Linked DNA regions of Homo sapiens. The protein of the gene in region 4 purifies or fractionates together with the protein of the main gene of each other region. This does not show direct contact. Each region holds a gene or a part of one and is shown on either strand. Other genes may lie near its edges. The genes, in order: MFAP3, CDH2, TM2D3, LRRC8B, ANO6 and SUGT1.

Region 1 (5,024 bases), on a different chromosome or scaffold from region 4:
GCCACATGGGCAGTTTGCTTGCCACACTCCACTGTGTAAGGAAGAGACTAGAGATCTATGATGAAGATTGCCTGGCAGCCACAGACACAGTTCAATAACTTTTTGTGAACTTAATCTTTTTTCTCCTGCCTAACCATTTCCGCATTTATTACGTGTTTGCACATTCATCTTCACTTTTGTGGTTTTAATTTTGAGTAAAATTTAATAAAGTTGTTTCTTTTTTTAAAAAAAAAAAAGGGTCACAGGAGTGCCAGGAAGTAGAATTCTATCAGGCACCAAAGCACCATGTATGAGTCTCTCTTTGTCTTTCTCCTGCTCCTCTTCCTGTCTTCCCACTCTCTCCCTTCCCCATCCCTCTTGTCCTTTCTTACAGCTTCTCCTTGTATGTGGCCCAAACCTGACTGCCTCAGCCCCCACATGCCTCCTTTTCCTCAAATGACCCTGACCCACAAGGGTCTCAATTCCAAGTTCCAAGAACAAAGATTCTATTAGCTTACTTTGCCAATAGGTTGTCTTCCTCCTAGACCCAAGAAGATAGGGATAGGGCTCAAAGAGGGGAGCCGTTGGGTAAGTAGATCACGACAAATCTTCTCTACCACAAACTGAGGACACATACAATGTCATATCATGGTTGGGATCCAAGCTCAGTTTACAATGCCTATATGCTCCATAATATTGCAAAATATTTGCAATGAGAAAAAGAAAAATGTGAAATTTTAAATTTAAGATTAAAACTGCATAATGGTGTCCCCTTCCCCCCAACCCCCAAGATTTTTAAATGGTTGCATGGTATTCTGAGTGTTTTATAATGATGTAACTATCAAATGTAAATTTTAGTTCAATATCTGAAAGAACCATGAACAATAATAATAGAGCTTATTCAGTGATTACCATTGCCAGACTCTGTGTTTTATGTATACTACCTCATTCAGACTTTGCAATAATCCTGTGAGAATAGATTCTGTTATTTTGCCCATTTTAAAGATGAGGGGCTGAGGCAGGGAGATTAAGTCATTTATAAAAGTTGCAAGGCTGGTTAGAGTCACAGATCGTATTTGAATCCTATACTCTGAACCTCTCTGCTACCCTGCTCTTATTAGAGACCTTCAATTTTGCTGATCTAGAGTAATCTAAATCTAGAATGGAATGTGAGTGATTATATCTCTCATTGGAAATATTCAAATAGCCTGAAGCACCATTCTGCAGGTCAGTTGCAGAGGAAATTGAGGAACTGTATTAGTGGCCCTTAGATGCAGTACATGAATCCAATGCCTCAGAAACACCCAGGGAGCCAATTAAAAGTCATAAATTCCAAGGCGCAAACACAGAGTTTCTTACTCGTTCTGGGTTGGGACCTGGGAATCCATATTTTTAAAAAGCTCTCCTGACAGTTGTGATATTCAACCTGGTTTGGAAACTGCACTTGGTGATCTTTTATTCCTACCATTATCCTCTAGGACAACATGGTAAATGAAGGTATCAGGTTGGGAGTCGGAAGAATGCATTTAATTAGGTACTTTTAAGGTCTTCCAAGATTGTTAGCATTGACTGTTTTTGTTTCAGAGAATTTATAATAGGCAACTGTATGTCAGTTTGAACAATTATAATCCCTGTTGCATAACATTATTCAATTTATAAAGATCTGTCACATACTGAATCAAATTTAAACTAATCTCCATCAATATTTATTGAGCATGTGCTAGTTATGACGTACAGCAATAAAAAATATAGGCCTTGTTCTTAAGGGGTAGTTGAGATGGGATAGACTGCCTAGCAGTACAGAGCAGCATATACCAGCGCCAGATGAGTACGGTAGGTGGGGAGGGCTCTGGGGTGAAGGAGAAGCCATCCTTTATACAGCTATACTCTGAATTTATGTAGGAGGAATAGCTAAGGCCTTGATAGGAGGTTCAGGAAGTTTGCGGGAAGGCAGAATTCCATGTGGGAGTTATGCTTTGCCAAGCCTTGTGTTGGTGAGGACACTCATTGCCCTGCAGCCCTCGCCTGTGACAGCTGTTCATTCTGCTGAAGTTCCTGAATCTCAGAGCAGGAAGACCGAATCCATTTCCTTTCTTTCCAGTTTCTTCTACACTAGCTACTTTGATCCTGGGGGGATGTGACCATACCCCCAGGTGATCTGCCCACGTTTGAGCCTCTCAGTTGTTTGACGTCTTCATCATGGACGAATATCTCCCTCACTCACTTCAGCCACTGCAGCTTCCGGAGTCTATCTCCAGTTTCACCATTGGCCCAGTTAGTTCTCCTCCAGAATCAGGAATCAGACGCAGCATTTTTGGCCACTGCCTGTCTTTACCACAATTTTTTAGCTGTTTTTTGTGAACAACTCCTGACCAGTGACCCCTCTCATTTTTCCCTGTCTCCTGGCCCTCTACCTTGAGTGCTTTCCTCCCAATTTTTATTCCTCTTTATTCTTCAGGTCCTGCACCTGAAGAATAGGTGCTGCACACCTCTTTTTCTCAGAGGCTTTCCATGATGAGATTAACTCCCCATGTTGGGTCCTCCTGTAGCATCTGTATTTTCCCTTGGGTAACATTGAGTTTATTTTGTATATATGTAGTTAGTGTCCATCATCTGCCAGACTGAACTTCGTGGAGGCCGAGACAATGTCTATGGGGCAGTAGGTAGGCACATGGTAGGTGCTCAATAGATACTGTTCAGTATATGAAAATGTATCCCTCCGATCTCAAACTCAGTGGTGGGGAAGAGTAGAAAGGAAGGAGATGGCAGGTTAAGAAATGAGGTGGCATTAAAATAAACTGGAGTTGTGGGGGGCTTTTTGTTTTGGTTTTGGTTTTACTACAGAGAGAGCAAGCCTCCAGCTCAAAGCCTTTCAGCAGGCAGTAGTATCTCTGGAAGCTAATAACACTTCTTTGTTTTCATTATGTTTATGTGTACGGTTACATTTGTCCACAGAACTGATGTAGAGTTTCCTTTTTAAATAAATGTGAAAGTAAAAATAAAATGAGTTGATTTAAAAGAAAAGCAGAAATGACGATAATTTGGTTCATGGATATAGTAAAAACAACAACAACAAAAAAGACAGGAGAAGGAATGAATGAAGTTTGGGAAGTGCTGCCCTGGATGAAGCTATAGGAACTCCTAATCAAAGTTCTGGAGAAAGCCTGGAGCATTTTTTCAGCACACTCATAGCCTGTCACCGTTGAGAACCACTAATCTAGAATAAAGTACAAAATTATGTCCTCCAATTGCTGTATATCTTGCAGTGAAAAAGAGCTTGGAAACTTACATGTCAAGCCCCTAGCACAGTGCTTGGCTGATGGCAGTCATTCAATAAATGTTATTTCCATTGTTTCTACCCATCACCCCCTCTTAAAAAAGAGACTGTATTCCAAACTAGATTCTCCTACTAACTTGTAGCATGTCGTAAGAAGCAAATCACTGTGCACTGAATCAATTAGATTATATTACTTCCAAAATCCCCTCTCTGCCTAAGTCTTTGTTTCCTTTAGTGTCCTTTTTGTGCGGTTTTAGGAGGAAATGGAAATAAACACGTTTAGTGTGTCATGTATTGCCAAAGTCTGAAGGTTTTTTATTTTACTCTGTATACCCCATCCTTAAATTGTAAAGATTTAGAAAAGTATTTGTCACCATTCAACCATCCTTTCAAGGGTTAATTAATGAAAATTAAATGACATTTGCACCGTATTGTAATTTAGACTTTGAGATATTTAATGGCAAAATACAGTGATTCATTGTTTTTTATGTTCTGTGATCAAGCAGCCTTCATATAAATATAAAGGAGAGTAAATGTCATTTCCAAAACTAATTATCTTGGTGCTTTATAAGACATAAAGCTAGGCATTTCATCCCATATTTTATAGAAATAAAAGTTGAATTTTTTCTTTGAGAGTTGGTGGCTTAAAGGGGGAGTCAAATTACCAGGAAGGTGATCATAAATACATAGACTTTTGGACTAGGATGTTATTTTGCCTTTTATTCAAGATATTTTGCTCTTCTTTTAAATGTGTCTAACAATCTGTCCCTGTAGTTTTATATTTGCATTTCTACTAACTAGACACTTAAGATGTCAGTTCCTCCCTTAGCTAGTTTACAGAGTTTGAGCTAGAAATTTGGTATGCTTACAAACTATTAAATACACTGTACTTTGTCTCTTCGTATTGGAGAAACTATTAAAAGAAAATTCTGTTGTCTAATGTTCTTGCCCATGAAGGAGGTTCCATAGCTTTAGAAGTCAATAACTCTATTTATGTGTATGCAGTAAGTGCAGCTTTCTTTCCAGTGTTAAAACAACCCACCTCAGGTGTCCCTGCATTATTTATATGTAACATATCTTCATACTTGAATTACTCAAATTTTGAGCTCCATGGTTATGATTATGATATGCCAGTTGATTTACATTATAACAACAGATGGTAATGGTGCAGGTTGAAATAAAAGATCATTAAGATAAATATTTTAGCCTTCATTGGCTCCCTGTTGCATAAAATTTGTCAGAATGAAATAGAATCATGGCATTTCAGAATTGGAAGAGTCCTTAGAGATTATCTCATCCAGTCCCTTATTTGACAGAGGAGAAAACAGAAACCCAGAGAGAATGCTGCTTGCCAAGGTCGTACAGCTAGTTAGTGGCAAAGCTAGGACCAAAATCTAGGTCTGCTATTTACCAATTCATTGCTTTTTCTGCTGTCTCTGTGTGAGATTTTTAGGTACTGTTCCATCTAATTACTCCCCAATGTCAGCACCAATTATTCTAATTAACATCTATTCATTCTGGAACATACGCACTTTCACCCCATTATGAATCTCAGTTGGTTAAACTTTGTATCTGGCTTTCTTTTAGGTTCTCTACTCACATCTTTTAATCTTGAAGACTAGAAAATATAACTGGATCTACCACTTGTTTGGAAAATTTCTCTACCAAGCAATAAATTACCCGCTGTGCTTTTGTTGTAGTGTAGAAGTTTTTGAGTTCTCCAAATCTAAACAAGATTTTGTCCCATTTTCCCATGAAGCTACATTGT
Region 2 (4,856 bases), on a different chromosome or scaffold from region 4:
ACATAATATATAGAGCAGCATTGCTAGATTAAATTTAAAAAAAGCACCTCACTGAAATACAAGAGACACACAAATGAGTACCATGTGGTCCATGTCCCTCCACAGGCTTACAGTCTAGCATAACAGGTATTACTACTGTGTGAAGCAAATGACAAGTGACAAAACTATGAAGTCAAAGCAAAAGCCATCAGGTTGTGGGGGAAAAAAATTCACATCAGCATTAAGAGCTAGGAGTTCAAAGAGAAAGTAGCATTGTATTTGACCTCATTTTGGAAGGACATCAAAGGAAGACTGAAGACAGGTCAGATGTGATTACTACATAAAGGGAGGTACTCAGAAAATCATTTATGTGACTAACATAGCATAAAATGTGGAATTAATTAATTGTAAACTGGTATTTTAAAAAATAGGGTATCTTCTAACTTCCAAAAAATCCTAGAAATGTCATAATCCAATATCTGTACACGGTATAAATATTGAAAAGAGGAGGACTCCTGTCAATCTAAAATAACATGCGTTATCTGGTTCTTATAAAGAATTTTAAGAAAAAAGAAACAAGGAAATAACTACTATCTATATTTGTAACTTTTGTAAGCAGATGCTTTTTAATATACAATTAGAGTCTCTATGCTCTGCAAAACTTCTAAGGATTTAGTATTAGGTCCTCTGGTATATTTTCTACTTAATTTTTTCCCCCAATTCCATTCTAGTACTCCTAGATACACTAACATTAGTCTCCAAACAATCGTTTGCTTTTTCCACACTCTACTTGTCAAATGCTAGTTGGCTTATATGGCCTCACCTATCTAAGATGTGTCACAGACAGTCCTACCCTTGAGAGATCAAGCCTGCCAATACACATGCATTTTATGAGCGCATACATGGGTTTTTATGAGCATGTGTTCACCTATCCTTTCAAGGTTACAAAGGAGAAACAGGGAAGAAGAGCAAAAAAATTAAGGTCAGAATCAGTATGGTGTAGTGGTTAAGAGATCAGACTGTGAGATGACACCTTAGCTCTCCCCAGTACTAGCTGTGGGACCTCCGCTTAACCTCATCTACAACTGTAATCATAATAATAGGACTATTATAAAGACCAAATGCAATAAAGGGACCCGAGGTCTCACCACAGTGACTGGCACATGTAGAGCTCAATGAATATTAGTTAGTATTTTTAAAAAATTTAAGTTTTGAGAAAAATGTCCTGCCTTGGGATTTGAAAAAATAAGAAACGATGAAGATATATTTTAAGAAACAAAATGGCAGCTGCTTGACTCACGTCAAAAATCAGAGAAAAAAGTACACATGACCAGTTTTCTCATCTCCAGGTACCTCTTTACTAACAATCCATGAAATTTAGCAGTACTTTACTACTTTTCGTCATGTCATTTTATACTGTTTATACTCCAGAAAAGCCTGTGTAAAATAAAATAAAGCAGGTTTCAGCAAAATACTTTGATATATACAACATAAATAACTTTAGATAGGATTTTATCTTATTTTTAGACTAAGCTACAAGGCAATTCTGCTAAGACTGAGAACCACAACCTACAATTTCTCAAAACTTGTAACTCCCTTCTGTGGTAGATTGTGTTACTGCCCTCAGTGATTCACTGCTCTTTTTCTGAAGGCAGAACACACACCCACACTCCCACAGAGCCTCTCTGGGGTCAGGGTTTACTTTCCCAACCACACTGTAAGGCTTGGCTGTCTGACTGGCTTTGGCCAATGCAATGTAAGTAGCTGTGAAAAGTACCCGCTTCAAGAACTCTATCTAATGTGTTTCCACCCTTCCACTAATCCCCCTTTCCCCCTCTGCCAGGAGAATGGCCTGCTCCAGATGGGAAGTTTATCTGCCTGGATCCTGAAACGAAGACGACATATGGATCAGGAACTGAGTCACTGACAGACTACAGCTGACTTACAACTTAAGTAAGAAGTAAACCTTCATTATTATAAGCAGCAATATTTTGGAGTGGTCAGTGATTGGTACCTTAGCTAACAAAAGCCGAAGAATGCACCTTCATTCATTTTGTTTGTGTTTATTCATTAGATTCAAGATGTATTTGTTGATTATCTATTAATATTATTGCAATGTATTCTGCTAACTGGTAGAGACACAGCTACTAATGAGCTAGATCCAATGGCTGCCCTCGTGGAGTTAATATTCACATATTAGCCTACACTCCTCTTCCCTACAAGATCTAGCAACTGCAAATTTAACCAACAGCGGATTGCCTTAGTTCAGCATTGTCTGACTTGGGGTCATACAAGTAGGCCCAAGAAGGATCTGAAGAAAAAACAAGAAAAATCAGGGAAATTCCTGATAAGGAGAATGGGTCCCTGAAAACAAATATTAAATTTTCATTATGACAATTGCTTTATAATACAGACAACAGAGACAATGGCTAAGATCACTTTGTTCAGGTCATCTGCTTTACCACAATTTAATTATTAAGCGAAAATACACACAGAGCCCTGGCCCAATCCTTATGATGTCAACACCAAACTGGAAATATGGAGAGGTCAAGACTCAAATTAGGGATAGCATTAGGAGAAATACCTAATGTAGATGATGGGTTGATGGATGCAGCAAACCACCATGGCACGTGTATACCTATGTAATAAACCTGCACATTCCGCACATGTATCTCAGAATTTAAAGTATAATAGTAAAAAAAAAAAAAAAAGAAAAAGAAAGAAAAAGAGAATGACAAGTTAAAAAAAAAAAAAAAGACTCAAATTAGCCCGAAAGGGTCAATGGCAAGGCCTCAAGTGTGTCTGAATTTGGAGGAGAAAAAAGGGATGGCCTGTGTTTACTATGTCCAGGGAATAAACACAAGAAGGGGTCTGGTCTTCCCTGGTGTGTTCACGGACCCCAGGACTCTTCATCAAATGACTAAGCCACCTAATTCAATTCCTTAAAATAAATATAATGCTTGTGATAATCAACTCCCATATCCACTATTGAGAGTCTAAAAAATATTATTTTCTTTATTTTTTAGCTCCTGCCCTGGCTTTCTGATCATCCTGGTAGTTTACAAATCTCTGTTTTCTTTATTTCTGTTTTTTTTTTTTTTTTTTTAAAGAGGTTAAGGCCATAAAATCCATTAGAGAGAGACCACTGTGCTATGCTAGAGCACGGCACATTGCCTTATGTTTTAATAATTACAAAAGGGCAAAATCACTGAACTTTTCAAGAGTTCTTAGACAAGCCAGCTTTCTATGCAGGTTAAGTACTTTAAATCCCTTCCATTTGGATAGCACTGATTTTTATCTGAGAATAAAATATGACTCTTCTGAACGAGGTATTATATAAACTCTTGGTAATATTTTGGTAATTCTAAAAAGATCGCACTGAAGTCCTAAGAAACTGACAGTAACAGGCACGAAATCTGAGTGAATGTACAGAAGAAATCCAGTGGGCAACAGAACCTTCTGGTTCTCCCTTATGGGATTCCTTTATTCTTGGATATGAACATTATTTCACAGGATGTACTGTTACCAAATTTACAAACTAAACGCCTGTGTTTCTCTAGGTTTGACTAAATTTAGCAAAGTATCCTCTTGTTCCACCTTTCCTGGAGAGGTAGATCTTGAATTCTGGATAAAGCTGAACTGTCTTCTAAAGACTGAGGCTTCTCTGCAGAGTGAGAGAGCTTGGCTCTGGCTGAATTCTTGCTGAGCTTGTATTTATAGACTTCTGATCCCAGGCTTTATGGGCGGAGACATGCTTTTATGAGGATAAAAACCCACATTATCCAGCGAGGAACACATGAGGGATGTAAAAGAAAAGAGGTCTTACTGTTTCCTTTACATTCTGTCTTCTACAGTCCTAGTGCCACTGCTTTAGTGGAGGTCATCATTATATCTTGCCTGGACCAGAGAAAAAGCCTGCCTAACTGGTCTTCGCCTGTCTCCAGCACTGTTCCAGCTTCTTTCCTACAAACTATTGGTTTCTGTCTCAAACGTTATTTGATATCACTCCCGCAAGTAAGACCTCTGACTGCTCTCTATGACTCCTTCCAAATGAAAGAGTTCCCCCGACAATGGGCAAAATGATTTTTAATTGGTGCATGAACACTTTAAAACAATTATTTAAGAAAATTAACTTAAAAATTGATGAACAGTTTAAGAAAATAACAAGAAGTACACAGAGAGGGAAAAAACTGGAAGGTGTTAACTCAAATGCCTGCTGTTGGGTAACCTACAGCATACAGTAAAACTCTTTAGAAAGCATTCAGTGAACCAAGACTGTTTACCCACCTTTTCTGTTTCAGCTATTCTCAGCTCCAGCAACCACGACTGAATTATGCACCCCCAAAGGGAATCCCCCCAAACCCCAAAGCATCATGTTCTTGTGCACTTCTATGTTGTTTATTCATTTTTTTTAGAATTATACTTCTTATATTTTTTATCTGATTAATATCCATCCATCCCATCCATCCATCCATCCAAAAGCTCATTAAAAATATCACTTCGACTGCACAGATCTTTTTTCCCCAACCATGACTTAGGAGTCATTCCTGTGGTCTCTCTGGTCCCTTCTACTTTTTTATTTTTTATTTTTAGAGACAGGGTCTCACTCTGTACTCCAGACTGTAGTGCAGTGGCACAATCATGGCTCACTGCAGCCTTGACCTTCCTGGGCTCAGGTGATCCTCCCACCTCAGCCTCCAGAGTAGCTAGGACTACAGATGCCTGCCACCATGCTCGGCTAATTTTTGTTTTTTTTTGTATAGAGGGTTTTTTTATCAGGTTGCTGAAGTCGGTCTCAAACTCCTAGGCTCAAGCGATCTGCCTGCCTGAGCCTCCCAAAGTGCTGGGATTACAGGTGTGAGCTGCTGTGCCCGGCC
Region 3 (5,024 bases), on a different chromosome or scaffold from region 4:
CTGTTCATGAAAATATACAATAATGCAAAAAAAAAAAAAATCAAAATCTGGGAGAGGGTTTCAGGGACAGCACAGGTAATATCCAAAATATAAAAGAAGTCTAGACAACTTTAAGACCAAATTTAAGAATAACCACTCTTGGAGAGAATATGGCTCATCAGGAACAGTTACATAGCGCGGGTGGGAATGCCAGTCAATACAGCCATTTAAAGAATGACACACGCTGGAAAGTACATGCTGAAGAAGCTCTTGCACCTGTGCCATTGGGAGACAGGCAAAGAAATTTGAACAGTCACAACAGCGGAAAACAGCACTTAACCAAATATATTGGAGAATAAACTGTGATACAATCTTACAATAGATTATTACACAGAAGTAAAAAAAAGAAGAGAAGTCACGTGGATGAATCCTAGAGCCACAATGTTTAGGAAATAAGCAAGTCCCAGAAGAGCACACAGCCTGAAATCATTTTACACGGTTCTAAAACATGCATTATTGAATATTATTTTATTACATATAGACAATAAAACTACAGAAAAAATTTAAAAGGAAGTGAAATAAAAAATTCAAAAGGGTGGTTACCTTGGAAGAGGAGGAAAGGCAACCAGGTGAAGGCAAGCACTCAGGCACTCAGGCGGCCGCAATGGTATTGGTGCTGCTTTCATTGTTATTTTGGGTAAAGGTCAATTACTGTGTATTATGCTTTATACTTCAAATGTTTTTCTTATTTTATCAAATATTACATTTAAAAAGAACTGCAATTTTCTGGATGCTTTACTTTAGTACGTTGAGTTTATTGATGATGCTTGGCACATCTAAAGAGCTGCTGATAAATGTTTCTAATTAAGTAACTTGACTCGCAAATTTCTGGTTAAAGTCCCTTCAATAAACTTGGAGAAAAACATTTTGTTGACAAATGTCCTTGAACTCTGACCTACCCAAGCAGTGGACGTGGTCCCGCACCGTGCAGTTGGCAGGGTAGCGCTGCCGAGGACAGGACACCGTCATGCAGCTGGTGGAGTTGGTACACTCGTAATCTGTTTCAGGAAGCTGCCAGCAAAATCTGCAAGTCATGTTAATGATGAAGTTCTTTTGGGATTTGAAGTCTTGATCCTATGTAGCAAATGACACAAAACTCATCAATCACAATGGTGTAGTCTGTTAAGATGTCAGTAAGACTACACAGTCACATGGCACAAAATTCCGTAAATGCTTGTATTTAGGACCTAGGAGTAAGTGCCAGAAAAACAGTTACCAAAACAATATGTATGTAAAACAAATGCCTATGATGTGACCTCATAATCATAAAACTACACACCCAAACATATGTACTTAAGGGAAAAAACTAGATAAATTCACATCAAAATAGCAAAGGTTATTTCAGGGTGATATAATTATTTCATAACTTTTGCTTAGCTAAATTTTTCATAGTAAACGTATACTTTTATAATGCAGAAAAGAGGAAAATTTATTTTAGAAAGTCACAATCACGGATGGCTGGAAGGAACTGATGAATGCATTTGTTGAAGGTCACTGAGCTTCAAGTGAGGAGTGGAATCCAGGTCCCTGAACTCCAGCCTGATGCTTCTGTAATGGTTAACACACCGCCTTGCTTCCGAGTTGCCAACCTTCCCTAACATCCCCTACCTTGCACAGCCTGGCAACTCAGGGTTGTTACAGCTGCTCCTACCACCAGGGCATGTGGCATGTTTAATCCAGAGGCAGCCCAACTCAGAAGCACCACATGGTGTGTGGAGGCTCAGTGAGTGTTCACTGGTGGCCAGAGAATTTTTCATTTCAATTTTAAAAGCCATTATTTTGTATTCTGCTTACAAAAGTAGAATGTTCTTTGTATGTTACATATTTGAAGATTATAGACAAAAACCTATAGGTGTTCAGAGCTAACCACTTTTAATCTTCTTTCCGTTTCTTCTACATGTATATTTATAAATTTACTAAAATGGAATTATACTGAAAGCACTTTGTAGTCTTTTTACTCTACCTGACATTACATTGCAGTGCATATTTTTCAAAATCATTTTTATGTGGTCACACATCTCTGGAAGCATCATGTATATATATGTATACATATATATACACATACACACATTATTTTTTTTTCTTTTTTTGAGATGGAGTCTCGCTCTGTCGCCCAGGCTGGAATGCGGTGGTGCAATCTCGGCTCACTTCAACCTCCGCCTCCCAGGTTCAAGCGATTCTCCTGCCTCAGCCTCCTGAGTAGCTGGGATTAGAGACGCACCCCACCACGCCCAGCTAATTTTTGTATTTTTAGTACAGATGGGGTTTCACCATGTTGGCCAGGCTGGTCTCAACCTCTGACCTCAGGTGATTCACCTGCCTCGGCCTGCCAAAGTGCTGGGATTACAGGTGTAGGCCACCACGCCCGGCCCATGTTTGTTATTTTTTTTAACATTTCACAAATTTGCATGTCATTTTTGCAGAAGAGCCATCCTAATTCTCTCTGTATGGTTCCAACTTTGGCATATGCGCTGATGAAGCAAGTACTATTCATTTTCTTATCAATGCAAAAACCACTTTTTATGGAAAACATTCAAATATGGGTAAGGCATCACTTGATTTAGGCAAACAGTTGGATCTGCAAAATAATACGTTTACATCTGCCTATTTTCAGTGATGTGCTTAAAACACACTTTTTTTAATGGTTTTTTAAAAAGTAGGTGACACATGTACATGGAACACATGTCAAGACACAACAGGAGAGTGAGAAGTGAGCCGGCCTCGTCTGGCCCAGCCGCCGGGAGCCCCTGCCCTCCCCAGGCCAAGTACGCTCTGTGCTTCCAGAGAGAGCTGATTCTACACATAGGCACATTTATGTCACCTACATTTAATGTTCCCCAATACTTTCACTTAATTTTGGACATCTATCAGTACATTACCTCTAGAGCTGCCTAGTTCTTTTTAATGGCTACAAGGTGTTTATTCTATTACACGTGTACCATAAATTAAGCAGTTCTTAGACATTTCACTTCTTTTGAATCTTTTGCTTTAATGAGCAATGCAGCTAAAAAATAAGCACACTTATCTGCATCCATGTATAATGATATCTATAACATAAATTCCTACATGTACAACTACGAGCTCAACGATTGTGTGCATGTGTAAGTTTAACAGATATGGCAAATCGCCTACAAGAGGTTGATCAATTTGATTACCTATTAATAAGATATGAGCATCTGACCCTTATACTCTCACAAACTCAGAGTTAATCAAATTAAAAAAAAATTGCCAATCTAAGGGTTAAAAATGTATTAATTAAATACTATGAGAAAACTTATATGTTTTTCATGTTATATATCTATTTGTATTTCCTTTCCTATGAACCATCTGCTCATGTCCTAACACTGTTTTTCTACAAGACTGTCATCTTTTCCGTGTGGGTTTTAGGAAGTGTTTATATATTACTGATATTACTGTATTATTTGTCACATATTCTAGAAACGCTTTTTCCTAGTTTGCCATGTCTTTTGCCTTTATGCTTTTTTTTTTAGGTCATGCAGAAATCTCCAATTTTTAGGAGTCAAATGTATCAATTCTTTATTTTATGGCTTCTAAACTTTATTTCATACTTAGAAAAATATTCTCCATTTTGGGATTATAACAGCAACTATCTGGTGTTTTCTGTGGTACTTCAGGGTTTCATTTTTCACATTACATCTTTGGACTATCTGGAATTTATTCTGGATAAGACAGGCGTTCCACTTAATTTTGTTCTAGAGAGCTACCAGGCATTCCGGCATTTACTGAATCCATCTTCTCACCACAGATAAGCACTGGCCCTTCAAAAGCTCATCTATGGCAGAAAGACACTGCCACCCCCTCTGTACACTAGCTGTCACTATTGAGAACACAGAATCCATCTGAACGAATTAGACTTGCTTCAGATATGCTAGTAGACTGAGATCTTCTCCAGTCCTACAAAGCAACATTTCTGTCAAGTGCATTTCCAGCAGACATCAACTGGCTTGACAGTTATCATTATAACTAAAACAGTAGTGAGCTGATATGGAAAGGTCTATTGGGTTTTTTAATTTATTTCTGCTTACATACTCAAAAGGGAAATCATAAAAGAATATAAAAATTCTTCAGAATTTCTTCCCAATAATCAAGTCTGAATTGTTCTTCTAACTTAAAGTTTACAATGAATTTATTTAGAATAAGTAAGCTGCAGTACTTACAACACAGGTAACAGATGGTTTCACTGCACAGTCAAAAGTGACAGGCTTCCCATAGGTACAGGAGAAATTTGTTGTGCAGTCTATACAGTCTGCAGGAAGCCTGCTACACAAACCATTGCTCGGACACTTCATCACATAAGGTGGGATTTCAGTACTTTCTGTGAGAGGCAAGAGAGAAGCTTATTCTCCTATAATACTGATTCGAATAACAGAGAACAATCTTCTAAGGTTAAGAGACGTGATCATTAGCAAGTAGACACTGCACTGGAAGGGAAGAAGCATGGGACTGGAGTCAGAGACACCTGCAATTAAAGCAGAATTCTGCCCACGGCCAGCTGTGGGACCTGGTGAGCACCACACTTGTAAAACATTACTTCATTCCTGCCTCCCACGTGGCCGTGAAAACTAAAGGTGCTCATATACAAATAATGTATAGAAAATTCTGGGTATACATTAAGGGCTTAAAAAAAAGACTATCATTTTGTAAGTTGAAAAAAAACTTACAGTAGGGTTTTGCAAAATCACAGAGGAAGTCTGTGGCAAAACTGGAACTAGAACCCAAATCTCTCCATTTCCAATCCCGTGTTCTTTTCATCTGAATTCACTAATTCAGAAATGAAGCCACTGACATCCTCAGGGCATCAACTTTAAAATGTCATTATTTCACACTGGTACTTCGATAAGCCACATTTGCTAATATAATATTTACAGTTTTACGCTACCAAAGTTCAAAACAGTTCTCTACTTTAATAACATCTTCAGTAAGCTGCAACTTATTTCCAACCAACCTAATGAGTGTGCAATGTA
Region 4 (5,024 bases):
TCTTATTTCTCCTTCCCAGCATCCTTCTACCACACCCTGATATTATTAGAAATGAATGCATTCTGATTCTGTCATGTTATTACACACTTGGTGGCATGATTTGCATTGCCTTGCATGGAGCAGGTTCTCCACTGCTATCCTGACTCCCAGAGCACTGGGTACATCAGCAAACAGTTCAGACCTGTGACCATTCAAGAGGAATTTGGGAGACCCAGTTATAGTGTAGAATTTATTTAACCATTTGTAAAATACCTTCTAATTTGTGTCATATCTGTTTTCATATTGCTGCCTTTTATTGCTATTGCCTACTTTCATTTTATTCCCCATCTGTATTTTCTAAACTTCCTACATGCCTTTATTATGACTTAATTTCTCTGGTGTTTAAAATAATGCCTTTGGCAGACATAATAACCTATTTTTCTTTTTCTGATCATTAAGGTTGATCTTAAGTAAAATTAGGCCTAGCTCCAATCACTGATCTCTCTCCTAAGTTCTTATCACTGTGGTTCATTTAGAAATTGAACAAAGGGTAACAATAAACTCCCTGTTCTATGACTGCCTTTCCTTTAGGATTCTACTCAATTGCCACACAATTTACATTTACTCCTTCAGTGCTGCTGTGAACCTGAGTAAAGGAAATGAATAAAAATGAGTTGTCAGGGCTTCAACCTTGACCTTTCCTTTTTGCCTTTCTGACCTTTTTGCTGCTTTTGATATGGGTCATGTGATTCTGCTTGTTTCTTTCTAGACTGTATATATTTAAACTTCATCTCTTGCTTTTTTTAAATTTCAGAATCCCTTTAAATTCTTTCTTCTCATCTGTCATCCTGTGACCATTTCCAGGGCTCCATTCTGCAATGCCTATTCTTCAGCTAACAAGCACAGCATATTTCACAGACGCTGCCAGCTGCACAGCTTCTATTTCTCTTCCGTATCCAGCTCCATGCAGGTGACTGAGATCTTCCTCTGCTCATCTCTCATGGAGACCACATTCTTTATTGTTGAGTAGCATATTCCTTTTGATTTCTTCTCAGGTAGCAGATTTAAGAGCATATTCAAACTTTCCTTATTTTCTTCTGTCAAATTCCTTTTCAGCATTTTGAAACTTTTCTCTTTTCAAAATCTCTTGCAAATTACAAGCAAGAGTTCTTCAAGGTTTTACCTAAGAGAACAAACTTCATAGACTGACAGGCCTGATTCTGAACTCTGTGCCATCACTTTGGATGAGTTGTGGATTAGTTAAAATTAGTTGCCAGCTACAGAGACTGCAAAGAACAATGGCTTATTCAAAATGATGCTTGTTTCTCTTTCACATTAAACAAACTTGCAGAGAGGCATTCTATGGCTGGTATGATGGTTCTACAGTCTTCTGAGAACTAGGCTGATTCTACTTTTTGGATTATCTACCATATATAAGATGAGGCCCTCAGCTTCATGATCCCAAGATGGAGCTTCAGCCATCACCCCCAAGTTCCAAGTAGCAGAAAGGAGGAAAGAAGGAAAAAGGAAGGAGGGGAAAGGCAAGAGCCCATGGTCTCTGAAGGAAAATTCCTGGATGCTGTCATATACTTCTTGTTATATGTCATTGCCTAGAACTTAGTAACATGACCTCAGGTAGCTGGAATAGAGACTGGGAAATACTATCCTTATTCCAGACAGTCTTATTCCTAGCTAAATAAAAAAAAGTGGGAGACTCAAATCCTTAGAAAAAAGTGGGGAATTTTGGAGGTATCCAAACACCATAGCTATCCTAAATCTCTTTTTTCTTGACTAGTATTGTCTTTCTCACAGGAGTCTTAGGATTAAAATAAATGTTATACATTAACATATCTAATATAGTATCTGGCGTAAAACATGCTTTCAGTAAATCCTGTTTATATTCCTCCTTACTTCTTTTCCTTTAATTGTCTAGTTTCCCTGCTACAACATCACTGGCCCCCAAATCCTATTAATATTTTAAATACTTGGGCATTTACCCCACTTGGTGTTACGAGACTGCTGTGTTGTACCTTGTCATGGGAGGAGATGAGGTTTTTGAGTGTCAGGGAGCAAGACGTTATTACTCAATGTCAGCATTTATTCTTAGCCTAAAAACATGGCATGTGAAATCAAATAGATCTGGACACAAATCCTCCCTCAGTATGCAACCATAGTCTCTCTCTCTCTCTCTGTTTTTTTACCTGTAAACTGGATAATAACTGACCATTAGAATTGAAAGAAAAAAAGTATATAAAGTGCTTAATACTGTCCTCAGTAAAGTGGTAGCTTTTCTTTTTTAATTTGGCCTAACTTGTGTGAGCCTTTTCAAAAATCAGTACTTATTCTATTTTTTAGAAAGTTATAAAATTATCTCTAAAATCAGTTTATCACCCAAGTGACAGCAAAATTTTTTCTATATATTTTGTTATAAAATAACAAAATATGGAATGGTTAATGATACAGAATGGTTAAGCCTTAACCTTCCTCAGCCTTGAATTATTTTTGGCTGACCCACTCTCAGAAGCTAAACCTTACCACCATTTAATTTATTTCACAGTATTTTTTTTTTCAGTAGCTATTAAGCATATAGTTTGTGCCAGGCACTGTACTATATTCTGGGGATGCAATGATGATGAGCAAAAATGCACATGTTCCCCACCCTCGTGGAGATCTGGGACCATACTGGGGAGGACAGGTGAATCACTCACTCACTGCAAACAGATGAGAAGTTGTCACTGTGAGGTTGTTATAAAGGAGACATGGGTCGGGCATGGTGGCTCACACCTGTAATCCCAGCACTTTGGGAGGCTGAGGTGGGTGGATCACCTGAGGTCAGGAGTTCGAGACCATCCTGGCTAACATGGTGAAACCCCGTCTCTACAAAAAATACAAAAAAAAAAAAAAATTAGCCGGGCATAGTGGTGGGCGCCTATAGTCCCAGCTACTCGGGAGGCTGAGGCAGGAGAATGGCGTGAACCCGGGAGGCGGAGCTTGCAGTGAGCCGAGATTGTGCCACTGCACTCCAGCCTGGGCGACAGAGCAAGACTCTGTCTCCAAAAATAAATAAATAAATAAATAATAAATAAATAAATAAGAGTATATAATAATATAACTTCTCAATATGACACTCAGGAATAATCTAATTCTTTTACAGTTTATTTGGGCTATATTAGCAAACTTTAAATACAGATGCTGTCTTGATACAACAAGCAGATGCATCTGAGACAGGGCACTGTAAAGTAGGATATTTTTGTAGAGGGCCAGAGGGTTGATCTGCATCATCCTTAGCAAATGGAATTTGAAACCATATGGCTGAATGAAGAAAGACTGTTGGCAAAAAATCAGTAGCGCATAAAGCAGCAGTGGAAAATGACCACAGGATGGGAAGTATGAGCAGTGTGTTTCAGAGGGTTGGGTGACTGGACTATGCATGGGATGGCCTTCTCAAAGCGGGTGGACAACCCCAACGGCCGGTCCCTCCGTACCTTTCCATTTTGCACAGACAGGAACCAGCATGGCAGGGGGTGCTATTGACAGGTGCTTTGGGAGGTGCCGTTTCTCCTTGCCGTGTCCTGCTGAGCTATTAGGGGAGTTTGTGGGGAAACAATGCCTCTCTAATCCCTGTAACAGCCTTGGAGGATGGCAGGGAGCACTCTACTTCCATGCATCTTCCACGTATTGTGGTATTTTCCATGTATTGTGGTATGGCATGACTGAGCCTTGGGGGTTGAGCCATCAGCCATTGCACTGAAGAATGTTTCTTGCTCTGAGTGGACAAATTTAAGATAAATTCTGTTCATCTAAAGATTTTAAGTTCATTTCTTTTAACAAAACTGAGTTTATTCCTGGCCCTATTTCAATGCTAAAATAAGCAGTCCTAAGCTAAGCAATGACTTGTCTTTCAGAAGCATTTCTGAATCATGTAGGGAAGTTTAAATTTTTCCCTGAAGGTTTGATAATTTGAGTCTATGAAACAAAGTGATAATAGCTTCACAGGAAAAAAAGCCTGATAAATTTTATTATGTGCACATGTATGCACAGGAGTCATATAAAATATTTTAAAAACTCAAAGAAATGGCCAGATGGTTAATGCTTATATACCATCTTGAGGTAACAGAAAGAACAGGGGCTGAGAGCATGGCCAAAAACAGGTAATGGTGGTAAATCAGGTTATGGTGGCAAGACAGGTTATGGGAAGGAGAGAAGAGGAGGCCTGGCTAGCAAAGGTGGTCTTGTTATCTAGATGATCCTCTCTGGTAGCAGCCCTCAGATAGAATAGATGGTAAATGTTTCTTTCAGACCTTTAAAGCTGTCAGATTCTCAGTTAATCTTTCCTAGATCCAGACAGACAAGGTGGGGCCTCAGAGAAAGCCTGGCTGCATCAGTGCAGATACTCTACAGACACAAATCTCCCGAACAAATGACAGCTTTACTGGCCTACTTCTGTTTTGCCCTCCGAACAGCCATCTCAAAATATGTCAAAGAAGTATATTTTGGGGTGCAATATTTTGGTTTCCTTCAATCATAATGCAGTTTCTCAGAGGCCTAGTGTTGTGTGTGGTGGTCAGGTTCGCAGGCAATCCCAAGAGAGTTTATGTTGGCCAGTGGTGCCCTAAGGTGCCAGAGTCTTTCACCCTCCCTTTTCCTGGAATGACCTTGTAACTTGGACTTCCTGCTTCAGATTTGCCTGGGTATTTGCAGTTCCTCCCTCAGTGGCACACCAAGCTCCTTCCTACCTTAGGGGCTTCTCAGTTGCTGTTCTTTCTGCCTGGAATGCTCTTCCTTTATAAATTTCCATGACTACTTTCTTCTCAAGAGTCAGCTCAAATGTGTCCTCAGAAATACGTTCCCTGGCCACCTTAGGTAAAGTACCCATACCCCCTACCCATGTTCCCGTCATAGTCTTTCAAACCTTGGTTTATTGTTTGTTTGCTTGTTTATGCTCTATTCCCCTCACCCCCACCAGAATATAAGTTCTGTGAAAGCAAGAACTTTGTCTCCCTTGTTTAACTGCTCTTAAGCCTGGTGTGTAGTAAACGTGCCAA
Region 5 (5,024 bases), on a different chromosome or scaffold from region 4:
GTTATCTAATCTTGGACATATTGCTTAATGTCTTTGAGCCTCTCTTTTCTCATCAGTAAAAGAGAGATAATATTATACTACCTTCCTCACAAGCCTGTTATGAGATTAAACAAATATACATGTGCTAAGGTGAACAGAGAGCACTTAAAGAATGTTATCTTTATCATTAATAATAAACATTATGGAGATAATTTTTAAAAACACATAATAAACACCCTGTATGTATTGTGCTAAGAGAGGATGACTTGATTCATCTTTTTAATTTTTCTCAGCCTTATCTAATTTTTACATATACACACAAATCTTACTCATCTCACAAGTGTTGAGACTTAACTGCGAAAGGAAATAGATTACAGGAGAAATGTAATGCCTTCTCTACAAGCAGATTTCTTAAAGAGCAAGAAAAACATCTTTTTTAACACTTAACTTTGGTTGCTATAATCATAGCTAATACTTATTTGGTGCTTTTCATGTATCTGAGCTTAATATTCTGTTTTTACCTGAAGTAACTCATTGAATCCTCAACAACTCCATAGGTTAGGTGCCATAGTATTCCTAATACACAAGAGAAGATATTGAAGCCCCAGTGGAGCTTGTACTCAAATAGAGAAATCTAGCCCCAGGACCATCCTGTAATCACTCCCTTTACTGCTCTCCACAGGTGACAACTGGCCTCTGTTACTATCAACAACAAGATATGGTTTGCTTGGTCCTCAGTTTCCCTTCTCTGAAACTTTTCTGTCATCACGAGCAGTCACACACCTTGAGTGCATGGTTCTGGAGAAAGTAGATGTAGGGGAAACAGTTTAAAGATGCCTCTCCAATAGTGTCTAGTACTGTGTATCAAGTAAGGAAAATTCATGGCGCCTTTAATGTGCGTCGTTGAGTGGTGAGAAATCTGCTTACTGAGAAAGTGAAAATCTCTTACTGGGGATTATGCAGTCAAAAATACAGTGGACTAGTGGCGTGAATCTTGTGGAAATACAAGTACAAATGACTGCCAGTTTAAGGTCGTAAGATCTGAGTGTGAAAAGTGTGTGAAGCTTTTATCAGCAGAGACCTGCTGCCAGTACCAACAGTTAGCTCAGGGCACCTCTGTGCCAGCTTCACTGGCAGTGCTCAGACTCTCCCCTGCTACAGTGATTAAGACAAAAGCTAGCACCTGCTGACACTTCAATTGGTGATAGCTTTTCTGTTGCAAGGAAATGTAGCTCCCTCATGGAGTATGAGTGAGCAAAAAACATTAACTCACAACTTAAATAATTTAGTAATTGTAGAAGGGATGTTTTCTTTGGTTCTACACTCATTTTTTTCCTTCTACCAGAGTATGCTACTAGTTGTTCCATTTTTATGCTGTCTGAAGATACTCTTTTTTAAATAGACTTTTTTTAGAGCAATTTTAGGTTTACAGAAAAATTGCACATAAAATAGTTTCCAGTTCCTTCCCACCACCCCCTGCACCCAGTTTCTCCTCTAGTTAATGTTTTACATATGTGGATGCGCCTTCTTTTCACTTCCATCATTCCTTTTTCTTTTTAAAAAATTTAACATGCCAGACTTTCTACCACCGCTGGTATCACTTATGTGAGATTTACATCACTTTACACACACACCTTGTTAAGTGTGAGTTCAGTTTTTAATAGTACAAGTGCAGTTATTGGTGAGTCTCATGCTACTGTGTTTGTTGTGCTTTCAGATCCTATTGATCATCGCTTCAGTTATTGGGATCATTGTCTATAGGCTCTCGGTGTTCATTGTATTTTCTGCAAAACTTCCCAAGAACATTAATGGAACAGACCCAATCCAGAAATACCTGACTCCACAGACAGCCACGTCCATCACGGCCTCCATCATCAGCTTTATAATTATCATGATTCTGAACACCATATATGAAAAAGTGGCAATTATGATTACTAACTTCGGTAAGGTCCTACTATAGCTTAGGTAACTTCTGACATATTTTTAGAACCTGCCAAAAATAGAGACTGTTATCTTTTAGGCGTTTCAATTCCAGTAGGTTACAATTTTTAGAAATTTTCAAGTGTAAACATATTTTCTCTAGCATGTATGGAAATAAATTATCTACAGCTTTGCATTAGTAAAAGGGACAAAGCAAAGACAATCATCATAACGTCCAAGCTCTCTGTAAACAGATCAGTGCTGAATAATATTTTCAATTACATTAGATCATGTACTCTATTGTTGAAAGTCAATAGTCTCTTTATTGCAAATAAGTGGAATAGGGTCATGGTTCCGGTGGCAAATATGTTCCTCGGTTGCTGAGAGGACAAGCTATCACACTGCTACGTGTCTTCCCTGTGCTGTGCTGTTCATATTAATATAATTCTCATCAGCCCTTGATTTTTTAATGTGTTTCTTCTCTCTGGCTTGTATCCCAGGCAGCTGTTTAGTGGCCAAGTTAAGTGCTTCCCACACTGCATACGTCTGAGTCGTTCCCTGAATGGCCTGCTCGGTGATCATCTAAAATGATCAAACTGATGCAAACTCCACACTAGGAGGATGACCTATTTTGTTTTTCCCAAATGCCTCTAGCAAGTTGTACCTTGGTTTGCTTGTTTTCTTCAATAGACCTACCTTATCGCAATTCAGGAAAACAAGAGAATATCATTTAGCAGGCAGTTCAAAAATAATTTTCTGTCAATTATACCCATGGCAGTTCTTATTTGATAACACTGGACTTGTAAATTTTAAGGAACAGTTGATTTTTTTGTGGGGCAGGGGGGAACATGTGGGCTATTGTATTCCTACTGTGAGGGAGAACTCATAACAATGTGCAAACTTGGAATTAACACAGTGGCTATATTAAGGAATTCAAAACAGCTTAAATGGAAACAGTGTGAATTGTATTTTTTTAACGTGTTTAACGTGTTAACTCATGTATCAGTATTTTTTATTAGAGTCTCAAAGCTGTTCACAATTTTAAAATCTTATTTCTCTTTCTTTTAACTACAGAACTCCCAAGGACCCAGACTGATTATGAGAACAGCCTCACCATGAAGATGTTCTTATTCCAGTTTGTCAACTACTACTCTTCATGCTTCTACATAGCATTCTTTAAGGGCAAATTTGTAGGCTATCCAGGAGACCCAGTTTATTGGTTGGGAAAATACAGAAATGAAGAGGTATGAATATATAATTGTATTATCTTGCCAGTTTAAGCTGAGTTTTCTCTCAGTTGCCCAAATGAATAGTTTTTTATTGTAAATTCCTTAGATTTATTTTTTAGCCTAAACAGAACAAATGTCAGAAAAATAGAATGCCTATATTTCAAGTTAGATCCATTGAATATTTAAATGGTATTTTCTTTTTAACCTTCTAGTGTGACCCAGGTGGCTGTCTTCTTGAACTGACAACTCAGCTGACAATAATCATGGGAGGAAAAGCAATCTGGAATAACATACAAGAAGTATTATTGCCGTGAGTGTTAAATTGTATAGCCATGGGTAAAAGGACAAGGGATAGAACAGCCCATCCACACAAATCATTTGCCTACATAGCCACATAGCCACATAGCTGCATGTCCACCTCTAAATGGATCAGAATCTGTTGTCATTAAAGGTCTCCAGACAACATAGTCCAACCAACAATGCAAATGTATCCAGGATCTAATAATTGTATTTTAAAACCTTCATTATATTTAATGTAAATCCCCATCTGCTAGAGTTTATACCTACTGGGCTATTGTTGGTGACTGACTAATCACAACCCTTTGAGCGACAGCACTGGTTAGAGCTGTGAACTGTGTATTTCCACAATTTCTTATATCCTCATATCCTTCTCCTCTCTTTCCTATATATTATGCATTTAAAAGTCAGTATGAATTCCAGTCACTATATTAAGTGCTATATATATATATACATCATTTAATCTACCAAACTATCCTTATTTTTATCTCCTTTTTACTAATGAAGATCTGTGGTTTAAAGAGGTTAAATGATTTACCCAGTTTCACATTAGCATTAAGAGACTACTGTAGGATTCAAATCCAGGATCCCATGAGTACAAACTTTTAAGAATAGAGGTTCTTTCATGATCCTAAGGCACTAGGATATATAATGTTTTAAGAAATAATTGTCTAAAATAATAATCACAAAGGCTTTGACTTACTGTTGTTTTCCTAAAAAATGAGAACAACAGAATAGTTGTACTTCAAATGTTAACTAAGATTTCATTGCCCTTTACAATTTTCACTTAGGCCCCCTCCACTATCAAAGTGTAAAGTCCAACACCATCTGCAATTTCTGCAAATTTCAGGGAGCTTTTTGTTTGGGTTTTCTATTGCTGCTATAACAAATTACCCCAAGATTAATGGGATAAAAATAACATGTAATATTTTATGGTCCCGGGGGTCAGAAGTCTCACTGGACTAAAATCAAGGTGTTAGTGGGGCTGTGTTCATTTCCAAGGGCTCTGGGGTGAATCTCTTTGCCTTTCCTAGCTTCTGGAGGCCACCATCTATGCTCCCTGCCTTGTAACCTCTTCTCCATCTTAAAGCCAGCAAAGTTTCGTGTTTGTGACTATCTTCTGTAGTCACCTCTCCCGCCTTCTGTCTTCTTCCCCCTGTCCTCCTCCTCTCATCTCCCCCACCACCTCTTCCCTTGTTTAGAAATAAAAAACCTCTACCTTTATAAAAAGTCTTTTATCCCACTATATAGCTGGGAATTTTTTAAAATTTATCACCCTTCTTTACAGGCTCTCGCCTCCTGCCATGTTGCCCTCTTGCCTCCATCACATACAACTTCTCTCTCCTTTCTTCTCCTACTCCTGGCTTTTTTCTCCCCAGTCACCAAGTTTCTGTTCATTCTCTTTATTGAGCAGTTAACTCACTCCGGGTTTCAGTGCCTCCTTCCAGATTTCTTTAACAGGTCTTATTCTCCATCTTCAATGGAAACTGTCAGGGTCTTTCTCTAAACAAAGATCTCTCTCCTTCCTCTTCCCCCACCCAGAAAGGGATTCTGGCTTTAGCTGTGAAATTCTTTTTTTTTTTTTATCCTACTCCGGAG
Region 6 (5,098 bases), on a different chromosome or scaffold from region 4:
AGCTAATTTTAACTACATTGTTAGAGGTAGTAACAGTTATATAACTAATCAAAACCAGTGTGATATCCAAGTACTTTTTTTTTTTTTTTTTTTTGCTATTTAATTTTGAGATACCATTTTTTGGAGGGGTGTCCTGATTTATTTTATTTATTTTATTTATTTATTTTTATTTTTTATTTTTTTAGATAAGGTCTTGCTCTTGCCCAGGCTGGAATGTAATGGCATGGTCGCAGCTCACTGCAGCCTCCGTCTTCTGGGCTCAAGCAATCCTCCTTCCTCAGCCTCCTGAGTAGCTGGGACTACAGGTGTGTGCCACCACTCCCAGCTAATTTTTAAATTTTGTGTAGAGATGGGGTCTCCCTGCATTGCCCAGGTTGGTCTCTCAAACTCCTGGGTTCAAGCAGTCCTCCCACCTTGGCCTCCCAAAGTGTTGGGATTATAGGCGTAAGCCACTGTGCCCGGCTGTTTTTTGTTTTGTTTTGTTTTGTGTTTTAATTGAACGGACTGAAGTTTACTTTCTAACTAGGTTAGCCCTCCATTCATACAAAATTATGAGCCCAAATGTCTTGGGGAGAGTACAGGAGAGGCCAGATCTTAAAAGCCAGGAGTGGAATTAGGTTTGAGCATATGTAGCAATATGGAAACAAAGAGTGAGTCAATTTATAAGCATACCAATCTTCTTGGAGACAAAAGTTTGAATTGCTCACGTGTCCATTTTTTTTCTGGAATCCCTGAAGAAATTTTGAGATACTGAGTACTAGAAAACCCTCTTTGATGAGGGTTGTATACTTTATTTTTAAACAGTATCAACACCGTTGAGGCCCTTCAAGTCTTTGCAGTCAAAAGCCATACACTTTTTCTTTGAGTGAGCCTTTACTTTAAGGTATGTAGTAGAATAATATAGGTATCTGAAAAAGAACTTGGTTCATGACATCCACTCATTCATTTATGCACTTAGCAAATATTCATTGATTGCCAAATACGCATCAGACACTGAGCTAGGTGCTAGGTACTAGGTAAACAAAATTCCCTGCCTTCATGGAGCTTAGCTTGTGGTGGTGGAAAGAAGCCCTCAGCCTGAATACTCAACTTATGTCTGCCGTTTATTCCTTAACACATTAAACTATAGGTAATAGCATATGTTAGTCTAATCTTTGTTTAGCAAAGCTATTTCTTGTTCTGGAATATAAGTACAGTTACAGCAGAATAAGTACCAAGGCAAGATTGGAGAATGACCGGTTGTGAACAGGGACTTAGGAATATGTGTAGCATAGGATTTTATTTTAGAGTTGTTAAAATCAGATCAACAGAGCATGTTTTTATGGGCCATCTGACAAGACTAGAGGTAGCTTTGGAACCTCTTATTCCCTGGAATGCAAACATGTATTTGCATTTCATCCACTGTCAGTATGAGGAGACAAAAACGAAGTCAGGATTTTGGAGCTGGAATGGATCTTAAATACTATGTAGTCCAAACGTTTGGTTTTACAGATGCACTTTTTCCAGAGTGCTGTCATCTCATATACTTTTTTCTTCATACAGGTTTTTAATGTAACTCACTCAGATCGTTGGTGATAGACTCTCTCTTAAAACTTATTTATCCTAATCTTTTTTTTTTTTTTTTTTTTAAGAGACAGGGTTTTGCTCTGCTGTCCAGGCACACAATAGCTCACTGTAACCTCCAACTCCTGGAGTCAAGTGATCCTCCTGCCTCAGCCTCTCAGGTAGCTGGGACTGCACTACTAGTGCACTAAGCTAATTTTTAAATTTTTTTTGTAGAGACAGGGTCTTGCTGTGTTGCCCGGGCTGCTCTCTTAACTCCTGGCCTCAAGTAATCCTCTTGCCTTGGCTTCCCAAAGTGCTGGGATTACAGGCGTGAGCCACCATGCTTAGCTGATTTGCCCTAATCCTCTGCTGACATTCTGATATCGGACAACTAAAATTATAACATTGGGCAGCTATTTTGTATGATATATAGGGTAGTGGTTCTTAAGCTTATTGGTGAGTAACCTTCACTTGGGAAGCTTATTTTTAAAAATGTAGACCTTCATTACTTTCCTCCTGAGATTTTGAATCAGTACCTTTGAGAGAGGGTCCAGTAAATCTTTGTTTTGAATGAACTGATGGTTTTGAAGCAGGTGACCTGGAGGACTGCATGTAGAACACAGTGATGTCAAGGAGTAAAGGAGAGAACAGAAGTGAGATTAGCACTAATCACCTCTAATGCCTTATTTCCAGTAAAGTTTAGAGAAGAGGAAAAGCTACTTGGCTTGCTCCTTTGAAGGTTTTGTTTCCCTCTTAACACAGAAATTAAAAGGTAGAGGAGAGATGCTGAATGATGCTTTTTTTCTTCTTAATCTTGGGGGGTCATTATGATTAAGTTATTGAATCCATATCACCGTATGACAGCACATGATGAAAGAAAATCAAATGTTTGTTTCAATCAAAGTGAAACAAAATGAGAATAACTATTTGGGCAAAACACTTTTATCACTGCTAAGATATTACTAGAACTGAGCAGAGAAATACTCAGAGAGAGCCATGGCATAGTACTAATTAATAATGGGGTACCATTTAGCAACTGGAATATTCTCCGATGATGCCTGTTTAATTACCCATAGGTGCTAAGTGAATGTTAAAAATTACGGTGCTGGTTGAGTAGGCCGAGTAGAATTTGTGTTAGGGCACATCCCATGGAGATCTTTTTTACTGCTTAATTTTTTGGAGTTACCTCAGTAACTTAACAGGCAGGAATATGGTTTTAATGGAAAGGAAACCATTTGCCTTTAACAGCATTAGTCCCGCTAAGAGAAAGTTTTTGCTTGTCTAGTTTATTACAGGTCTTTGACTTTGTCAGTATATGGCAAATTTAGTATAAAAGATGATTAATTATCAAGGCTGATGAAATATAGGCAGCTGAAAAGAAAATTCTTAGCAATTCATACCTTAGAAGGAACCCTGAAGGACAGGACGCCATAGAAATCCTGTTTTTTTAAAAAAGTAATTTCAAGTAAGTTTGCAAATGCAATGCTAGTAAAAAGTATATAGAGGTATGTCTTTCACACTATCTTGTTACTATTAGAATTTTTGTAGCCATGTGCAGAGGAGAGAAAAGGTGTTGGATTTTCTGCAGTTCTGATTCAGTTCTAAGAATTTGGTGTGAAAAGAATGTTTGCAAAGGAGCAGGCACAAAGGTGAGAACAGGAATACGAAACACAACATCTGTAAATGACTAAATTCAGAGGGAATTTAGTGGGGCATATCTCTTAAATGGTTTTGAATAATTTGGTGTTTTAACCAATGACTTAATTTAACTTAGTGGGTATACTGTTCCCAGTCCCATTACTGATTTTTATTCCTCTGTGATAACATACACCCAAATAAAGACTGCTATGTATTTGACTTTAAAACTATAAAGATGTAAAAAAGGTTCACTAAGCCAAACACCTTAGAAAATAGCCTCAGCTATTTGCTATGTTTATATTATACCTGCATAAAAGTATTTATGTATAGATGTACTTACCTTACACAGTAAGTACCTAAAATTTGTAAATTGAATACTTTTGAATGTAAGCAGTTGAAGTAAAACCTGTAGTGAGTTCTTCAGTCAGTCAACACTAAACCTGTTTTGTAAATTTGATGCTAGTATTATACTGGACTTTCTCAAAATGAAGTACACCTATATATGCATATAGTATATGAGCATGTGTATTTGTACAAAAGCCCTTCAAAAGGAGTTCAGCTTTTATAAACACCAAAACACTCTCTGCCTGTAAAATGTTTTTGCTGAAATTTGTATCATTAACTCTCAAATTTACATCTTCATGTTTGAGATACGCTTTTAGGACTGTCTATGCATGTAGACTTTGGTCAACTCTCTCCTCCTCCCTCAATAAATCAGTTAACTTAAAAAATATATTGTGACCATTTTTATAAAATACATGTTCATAAAACAGATCAACATATTTAGCTTATACAGAAATAAAATTAAGTCAATCCACTCACAAAGAATTTCTATTTTGTAAAAATGTAGCTTGTATTTCAGTATAATAAAATCTGATGTAAGAAACTGTTGAGTGGGTTAAGTGGTTATTCTTAGTATTATATCTACTTTTTTAGTGTCACAGTTATTTGAGGTGCTGGTGGAAGGGGAGGTGTAAAAACACACAAGTTTTTGCAGCCAGAAAATGAAAACATTTTCCATGTGCTGACTAAATGGCAGCTGTCACATATTTCCTTCCATTCCGAGTCAAACTAGGACCTTGAAATCTAACTTGAGATGTTCCATCAGGATTGGTTTGTACCACTACTGAGAATTAAATGAGTATCTAATGAAGTACCAATAATACACATAAGTCTATACACACATACTAACATTTCAGTCAAGATTCAGCACAGCAAACTGGGCTGTATTTGCAACTTTTAGACTGGCCTGGTTAAAAGTAATTTGAGAAATTAGTAGTACCAAGTTGTGAAGAAATTTGTAATTCTTCCCTGTTGCCCTCTCTTCCTTTATTGAATGCTCATCTGTCCACTTCTCTTTCAAAGTAGACCCTTATTTTCATCCTTGAATACAATTTAAGTCTCCTTTGTCATTCCTATCCTTAATCCAACCTTGAATTTTTCCTCTGTTATTAAATCATCCTGATTTTTTCTGTTAAATTGATGTCCTTGGGTATTTAGTGACGTTTCATAACACAACATAATCCCTTGGCCTGTTAGAAGTAAATTACGCACCTCCTATATTTTCATCTAATTATGAAGCTTTGAAAGGGAGCATCTTTTCAAAAGTCAGCCTTCCCTTATGACCTGCTGTCCTTATTAAGATGCCTCTTTGGCCTGTATGGCACCTGCTCAGTTTTCACATGGGAAGCTACCAAGGGGGATTCATCTAAGGTGAAAACTTAACCAGCTCCCTCCTTGCCTGCAACTTTTCATTTCCTATTTCCTACACACACACAGACACACACACACACACACACACACTCCCCAGATTAACATGCCACTTAAAGCTTCTGCCTACATTTTCATCTTGATATTTCCTACCCCGACCTGAATGCTGTTTTCCTGCTTGTACCATGCAGCTTCACTTCACACC

What was found.
Region 1: the proteins of LRRC8B (region 4) and MFAP3 purify together in Homo sapiens (affinity purification with mass spectrometry; one large-scale study listed by BioGRID and IntAct). This does not show direct contact.
Region 2: the proteins of LRRC8B (region 4) and CDH2 purify together in Homo sapiens (co-immunoprecipitation; one large-scale study listed by IntAct). This does not show direct contact.
Region 3: the proteins of LRRC8B (region 4) and TM2D3 purify together in Homo sapiens (affinity purification with mass spectrometry; 2 studies listed by BioGRID and IntAct, with this or other methods). This does not show direct contact.
Region 5: the proteins of LRRC8B (region 4) and ANO6 purify together in Homo sapiens (affinity purification with mass spectrometry; 2 studies listed by BioGRID and IntAct, with this or other methods). This does not show direct contact.
Region 6: the proteins of LRRC8B (region 4) and SUGT1 purify together in Homo sapiens (affinity purification with mass spectrometry; 2 studies listed by BioGRID and IntAct, with this or other methods). This does not show direct contact.

What each region holds. Positions count from the first base shown.
Region 1 is NC_000005.10:154,044,714-154,049,737, forward strand, and holds part of MFAP3 (microfibril-associated glycoprotein 3 isoform 1 precursor), read left to right. Parts: intron 1-4,843; 5' UTR 4,844-5,009; coding exon 5,010-5,024. UniProt on the Homo sapiens protein: Component of the elastin-associated microfibrils.
Region 2 is NC_000018.10:27,952,696-27,957,551, forward strand, and holds part of CDH2 (cadherin-2 isoform 1 preproprotein), read right to left. Parts: intron 1,933-4,856; exon of another isoform or gene 1,823-1,932; intron 1-1,822. UniProt on the Homo sapiens protein: Calcium-dependent cell adhesion protein; preferentially mediates homotypic cell-cell adhesion by dimerization with a CDH2 chain from another cell. Cadherins may thus contribute to the sorting of heterogeneous cell types.
Region 3 is NC_000015.10:101,645,787-101,650,810, forward strand, and holds part of TM2D3 (TM2 domain-containing protein 3 isoform a precursor), read right to left. Parts: intron 4,376-5,024; coding exon 4,218-4,375; intron 1,114-4,217; coding exon 939-1,113; intron 1-938. UniProt on the Homo sapiens protein: Probable positive regulator of Notch signaling.
Region 4 is NC_000001.11:89,527,326-89,532,349, forward strand, and holds part of LRRC8B (volume-regulated anion channel subunit LRRC8B), read left to right. Parts: intron 1-5,024. UniProt on the Homo sapiens protein: Non-essential component of the volume-regulated anion channel (VRAC, also named VSOAC channel), an anion channel required to maintain a constant cell volume in response to extracellular or intracellular osmotic changes.
Region 5 is NC_000012.12:45,400,099-45,405,122, forward strand, and holds part of ANO6 (anoctamin-6), read left to right. Parts: intron 1-1,696; coding exon 1,697-1,922; intron 1,923-2,973; coding exon 2,974-3,143; intron 3,144-3,340; coding exon 3,341-3,438; intron 3,439-5,024. UniProt on the Homo sapiens protein: Small-conductance calcium-activated nonselective cation (SCAN) channel which acts as a regulator of phospholipid scrambling in platelets and osteoblasts.
Region 6 is NC_000013.11:52,696,841-52,701,938, forward strand, and holds the end of SUGT1 (protein SGT1 homolog), read left to right. Parts: 3' UTR 1-4,069; downstream 4,070-5,098. UniProt on the Homo sapiens protein: May play a role in ubiquitination and subsequent proteasomal degradation of target proteins.